Regions from separate parts of the Homo sapiens genome. Here region 1 is reported to be linked to region 2. Evidence: microRNA targets listed by miRTarBase, many of them from high-throughput screens and not tested one by one. Region 2 holds a microRNA gene; the other region holds the end of a gene's coding sequence.

The links. The annotated mature microRNA hsa-miR-7110-3p reads UCUCUCUCCCACUUCCCUGCAG and lies in region 2 at 1,383-1,404, opposite strand. An mRNA with a match to its seed (bases 2 to 7 or 8) in the 3' UTR can be bound and repressed. Matches are read on the target gene's strand: a 7mer-m8 pairs with bases 2 to 8, a 7mer-A1 pairs with bases 2 to 7 and ends in A, and an 8mer does both.
Region 1: the mRNA of SS18 is a reported target of hsa-miR-7110-3p. Seed matches in the 3' UTR shown: 8mer at 1,454-1,461, 8mer at 1,452-1,459 and 7mer-m8 at 1,451-1,457.

The regions. Positions count from the first base shown.
Region 1 is chr18:26,015,345-26,018,754 of GRCh38, forward strand. It overlaps SS18 (SS18 subunit of BAF chromatin remodeling complex), which reads right to left. Exons shown (of 11, transcript NM_001007559.3): 11 at 909-3,036. The coding sequence ends at 3,010. Among named protein-coding and RNA genes, the nearest start is that of SS18, 74 kb to the right of the region's middle.
Region 2 is chr3:123,159,852-123,163,261 of GRCh38, reverse strand. MIR7110 (microRNA 7110) reads right to left here and starts at 1,468; the gene lies at 1,383-1,468. PDIA5 (protein disulfide isomerase family A member 5) reads right to left here. Exons shown (of 17, transcript NM_006810.4): 16 at 1,807-1,941; 17 at 1,158-1,382. The coding sequence ends at 1,302.

The DNA.
Region 1 (3,410 bases), not on the chromosome of region 2:
TAAATTGGGTTAACATTACATGGGGGCCCATCGCACCATACTCTGCTCTACACTTGGGTGTATGTTTAAAAATTCCATTAAAAAATTTTAAGAGAAAACCAAAAACAATGTGCCACCTGAATAATGCTACAGAATAATAACATATTCCCAAATAACAGAACTAACACACTTAGCATATTTTGAAATGTTTAATAGTGACCCCACTCTTTTCTTGGTAATACTTTGTTTCTGGAATTTTATGGGATAGTATGATATTATTACTTCGATAAAATGCAAATTTCAGTTGTAGAATATATAGTCTGTACAGAAATGTCAAATCTAGTAGACAGCTACTGGTAAAGTTATTCCTCTTACTAGGTATCAGAGGAGTAAGGTAATTTTTGTCACCACCAATTAAAAACTTTTACAAAATAGGACTGTTATAAAACAATTAAACCTTGCAAATGCACTAGTCTCCAGGAAGAAAGTCCTGGAGGAAATTCTGCTTATTAAAATTGCAATTTTAGTTTCCATTAAAAGGAGAATAAGACAACAGAAGATGGGTTGGCAAGACAAATTATTTCTTAATGTCAGTTGAGCTTATTTCAAATGAGATAACGTACTACACCAGGTTGGGTTCAGTACAATTTTGTCTCCTCAACTCATTTATCTAATTCAGTCATCTTGATTATAGCCTTATGGACTTCATTTTCGGAGAAAGAATTCTGTAACAAACAGCCTACACAACATGCTGATTACTGAACGGTTAATTCTAATTAACTTGGGCATGGCAAGAGAATTTTGATAAAGTCCTAGAATACAAATATAGTCTGCTTATACTGGACTAACTTATATAAAAACCCACAGCATAGTCTCCAGACAAGACAAGAGAGTCAAAGAGATCTAATTTAAAGAAACAAATGAGAAAATTAAAATCACAAATAATTTATTCTTCCGTTAGAGTTGATACAGTTTTAAATAGCAACAAAGTACACAGTGGTGGAAAATTGGCACAGAACCTACAAGCATTTCAATCACAATAAGGCTGTCCATGATTTATCTGTTCAAACTTGATGTCCATTTTCTACTGATCAAGTTGAAAGAAAAAACCTATTCTGGCCAGGCACGGTGGCTCACGCCTGTAATCCCAGCACTTTGGAAGGCCGAGGCGGGTGGATCACCTGAGGTCAGGAGTTCGAGACCAGCCTGGCCAACATGGCGAAACCTCGTCTCTACTAAAAGTACAAAAATTAGCTGGGTGTGGTGGCGGGTGCCTGTCATCCCAGCTACTCAGGAGGCTGAGGCAGGAGAACTGCTTGAACCTGGGAGGCGGAGGTTGCAGTGAGCTGAGATTGCGCCACTGCACTCCAGCCTGGGCGACAAGAGCAAGACTCCATCTCAAAAAAAAAAACAAAGAACAAAAAACAAAAACAAAAAAACCTGTTCTGACCTTGAAACACACAAACACACACTCTCTCTCTCATACACACACAGAGACCCACTGAAATTCCTCCTTTTGATTACAGTATGTTGAGAACAGTATGTTCTGCTTATTCAAATTTATGACGCCCCTTCTGTTTTGTTTCCAGTTAGACGTGGGAAAAACCAATTCAATTATAAAGAATACATCTTATTCCCTGGGCATAGGCAACTGTGATGAAAATAGCAACTTACCTTTGGGCTAGATGTTTTCAGATTATGCTTAAATAACCGTGGTTAGAAATTTTTCAATGCATGCTTTCCTGCCCCACGCAATCTCCCTGAATTTAGCTAAAATAATCAGGCACAGGACAGTCTCAAATAATGATTAAAATATGCCATGCTAATAAACAAGGTTATCTAGAATGCAACCTCGGTGCTTTAAAAACAGATAGAATAAACCTCATCAATAAGCATTTTCCTAAATATCTCTTTGTGTTATATCAACCAACATAAAAAAGGGAAAAACATAAAAGTGTCCCTTTATAAATGATATTATTTCCAGATAAGAAAGTTGAAACAAAGGTTTGTAAAGTCTCCTGAACTATTCAGTTTAATAACCAATTATCCCTCAATATTACAAAATAAAATGACTGGATCAATGTTGACTCTTCTTTGATATCATTTATAAAATGCTTTGATATTACTTACTAAGTTCCCTGATAACTCAAACAAGGTAAAATTAACACTTTCATTTTCAGTTATTGCTATTTTAGAAGAGGATTACCACTTTCATTTAGATGAAACTGTTTTACCAAAGCCTCCTCAGATCCAACACAAAGTAATTCTTATTGCCTCACATTTTAAAACAGTATTATAAATGATCTTTATAAAAAGGTTTAATCCACAAAACTGGAAGGCTTTTAAAAAATGTCTTTTTACTCAAAACTGTATCACAGTGCCCTTGATTATCTAATAGATAAAAGGGATTTGAATTTCCTCTATGAGAACAGAACAGTGGACATATGGTGTGCTTTGTCTTCCCCTCACCTTTATCTTTATAGCACACCATTTTGAGACCAAAACAATCAAGCATCTACCATGTTCCAGTCCACATTAACAGAGGATTTCTGATGCTGTCCAGTGCGTAGTGTACCGCCTTGCATATTCACCACATGAAATAAACATAATATACAAAATATTGCTGCTGTAAAAAGTGTACATTTCCCTCTTCCCCTTACAAAAAAATCTGTGGAAAAGTATTAAATTCCCTTACCCTTCATAAACATACAAAGCTGTTCACACCTTTCAGTCTGTAACAGTCCATTTGAAACACAGTTCCAAAATCATTACAAATTGGTTATGTCATTGCATTTTCTGTCCAATGTTGCCATCTAGAGTAGAAATGTGAAATCAAGAGTATTTTTGAGCTACTAAAGCCTTTTATAACTAAACCACAAAGGCTGCTTACTGATGAAACAGCCACTTATCCACAAGGTTTTTCCAAAAACTAGATGGAATGGAAGGATCTCTTCACAGGGAGGTGTCCACAGTGCTGAGGTGACAATATGGCTGCTAATAGATACTGGCTACTGGAATGTAAGTACTTTTTCACTGCTGGTAATTTCCATACTGTCCCTAAAAGATAAATTTAAAAATATAATTAGATAATAGTTTGACCATAACAGGCAAAGAAGATTACAAACGAATCATTTCTAACACTGTCATACCACAAAAAAGCAGCCGTACCTACAATAAACAAAATTTTTTTATATCGTTAGGTATACAGTATCACCCTGTAATTTCTTCTGATATTATATTCAATTGCAAATGAATTTCATAGTCCAAAATATGCTAGGGATTAGCAAATGAGCCTAGAATAATACTTGTCAGAGTGGGAACTTAAATGTTTAGTGAATTTTGTTGAATGAATTGAGCAGGCATTGAGTGAGAAGTTCTAGTTCTAAACTCTGATGTAATATATATATTAGGGTGTAAATCATATGCTAGTG
Region 2 (3,410 bases):
CCCCCTGAACTACTGGAGGAATCCAACTCTAGGACCGCTACTTATAACTAAAGACAAGATACTAGCACAAGGCCACTCTGCTGTCCATGGAGAAATACCACCAAGCAGACAAAACATGTTACTGCTGTGCTCAGGCTCTGCCTGCACCGCTGGGCACAGGGCTGGGGTGTCAGTCACGCAGGAATGCAGAAAGCAGGAGGACTCACCAGAAAGGTGGGTCAAAAAGGAGATGTACACAGGCAGGAGGCCGAGCAAGGCACCCATCCATGGAAAACGTGGCGTAAAGATTTGGGGTTATTATGGTTGGTGGTGGGGGCTGGTGAGCAGATCTAATATCTGCACCTCGAGAACACACCATCCCTTCCAGCCAGGGTGCACAGCAAGCAGCTGGCACAGAGCCCCCCTTCCCCCACTCCATTCATGCCCCTGAAGCGGCAACTTAATTTTCTTTAAAGGGAGATTGGGGAGGGAATGGAGAGACGAAGAGAAGACAAATAGCTGGAGAAAGATAAATACCTAAGTAAGTTCCAGGAAAACACACACAGAGGAAACACACCAATGCTGAAACCGCAATGATCCAGAAGAAGCTAGTGTTTGGTTACCATTTGCTTCAGCATCCCAATTTCCCTGATCATCTTTTGTTTTTTTCTTTCTTTTTCTTTTTCTATTTTTGAGACAGGTCTTGCTTTCTAGCTAGGCTGGAGTAGTCATGCGATCATAGATCATTGCAGCCTTGAACTCCTGGGCTCAAGAAATCTTCCCTTCCCAGCCTTACAAGTAGCTGGGACTATAGGCATGTACCCCTATGCCCAGCAACTTTATTTTCTGTAGACATGAGGTCTCATAATGTTTCCCAGGCTGGTCTTGAACACCTGGCTTCAAGTGATCCTCCCACCTCAGCCTCCCAAAGTCATTGATCATCTTGACGTATTTCCTCTCATTAGCTTGTCATTTTCCAGCAGGATATTCTGCGGTCCAGTTTCCCTGTTCTGCTCTCAAATGACTGACAGGGGGCCGACACCCTCAGGAGTCACCTCCATGCAGATGGGGCACTGGAGCACTGCTCTGTACCTCCCAGCAGAGGTGGTGGAATGAGGAGGATGTGAGTATCCACCTTTTTTAGTACAGGCTCCACGAAAATAAACCATACCACCAAATAAATGGTTTAATTTTATTTCAAAATTGTACAAAATGGCCATAAGCGGCTATAAAAAATTTGTCTTCAGAACATGTGGAAATTCAGAAACAACAAAACAGGTATCATTCACAGTGTAATGGAAAAGCTTTTTCTGAGGCAGGAATTATAACTCTTCCTTCTTTTTCCCTAGTCTTTCATGGTCTCCCTCCCGGAGGGCTCGAATATAATTGGTAAATCCCAATTCCTGCAGGGAAGTGGGAGAGAGAGAGAGAGAAAGAGCTTTAATCCCTGAGCTGGCTGTGCACTCTCTCTCCCCACACCCCCAGCCCCTCCAGGGGGTCACTCCTATGACAGGGAGAGGTGGGCAGACTTCTGCAAGGTGGAGAGGGTCTGCGTGGCTTGCACCAGCCCCGACCAGCAAGTGAGAAAACCCTCGGCATCTGGAGTCCAGCCTGCCTCTGGGGACAGGACATCTGTGGCAACCCCTTGGGACTCTCCTCCAACAATGTCAAGCCTCAGCCAGGCCCAGGGCCTGGGCCTCTCGGTGCAGTGTTCCAGCTGACTTCTGCAGTTTCTGGGATGCTGCCCAGTGCTGCCCCTCCTCAGTGGAAGTTTCCCTGCCCATCAGCAGAGAGAGAGCTCTGGGCAGACGCCTCTCCCCCACTTACTGTGCGGTCGCTGTCATACTTTTCTGCGAACTTCCCATAGTGGTAGTAGTGGAAAGTGGGGTAGCCCTTGACCGCCTCCTGCTGGCACAGGTCTTGGTTCTTGTCTTTGACACAGTCAACAGCGGCACAGGCAATCTAGGAGCCAAGGTAAAGAGAGTTGGCACAGGGTGTCCCCAGGCTGAGGCCTGGACCCCACAACACAGATTGCACATCTAGTCCACGTCACAGGCCCACTCTGATTTTTCTCCTCAGTGGCAGGTAGGAACTGAACCAAAGCACCCCCAGCTCAGGACTCCTTGGAGACTGATGGTGCTTGTTTTCAATTTCCAGATGGGTAAGGTTAGGGGACTCGGCCTGGAGTGCCTTTAGACTGTCCTTTAAAATCAAGAGTATGATGATCGTAAAGGAAATGATGACTTGAAAGCATTTGTAAACACCACAGGTTCTGTGGTGCTATCTGTAAGGGACTGTAGGATTTAATCATTTCTCCACTAATATTTCCGGAACATTAGCTTGGGGGGACAGTATAGTGCCAAGGTTAAGGGCAAGAGCTTTCAAGTCAAGTTCCCCAAGTGCACTCTTGGTTTGCCTGGACAGTAAGACTTAAGGAAAATAACTCAGCCTCTTGGTGCCTCATTTTTTTCAGCTGTAAAATGGGGATAATAATAGTATCTAGGCTATCAGGATATTGTGAAGACTGAATAAGAGAATTCCAGTGAGGCCAGTGAGCACAGAACCTGGCACCAGATTCATGGTCAGGAAATGTCAGCTGCTATTACAGTCACTTCTTCCAACCCCATATACAAGCTCTGTCCCCACTTAGGGGCTCAGTGTCTGGGCAGGGGTTGGATAAAGGGACAATTCCAACATGATGTGATGTGAGGGATGAGGGAGGTGGTCCAGGTGCCAGGTGAGTGGGGCAAAGGCGCTCTGTATGATTCGCCATCTGAGCCAAGACTGGAAGAGGAGGAGACCAGGGAAGCACATCTGGAAACTGGAGGAGCCCCGCATGAGTAAAGCCATCAGAATGTTTGGTCAGAAAGTGGTTCCCACATTGGCCACTGGCCTCTTCTTGACCATCTAGCAAATTCCACATGCTGGGTAGCTTTTCCTCATCATTTGTTGTTTTTTCAAAGGAAGACAGTATAAAGCAGAAATGGGGAACTTGTTTCCGGTTGAGGGTCATGCACCAGGGAAGCCCGAGAAGGGGTCCTCAATGGCCATACCCAGTACAGAGGTGTTATGGAAGATGGGGCAGATTCCCATGAGAATGAGTCCTCCTACCAGGCAACACACACTGAAACCCTGCCGTGTGCCAAGCCTGTTCTAGATGCTGGGGGACAACGTCGACCTTGACAAAGTCCAGTTATCAAGCGTCTGCTGTATGACAAATTAGATCATTTTAGATAGAGCTCAATGAATGCTTGGAAGAAATTAAAAGAGGGTGATTCAATAAGATAATTTAAAATTATTGAATAACCATGATTCACACAGTTCTTTGGTTGATGGTTATTTGCATTTGGACAAAGCCCCTTTCCAGGTAGGAGAATCCTGTGGGCCCCCATGGCCACGTTTACTCATCATGTCCCTCATGCCCAGGTGAG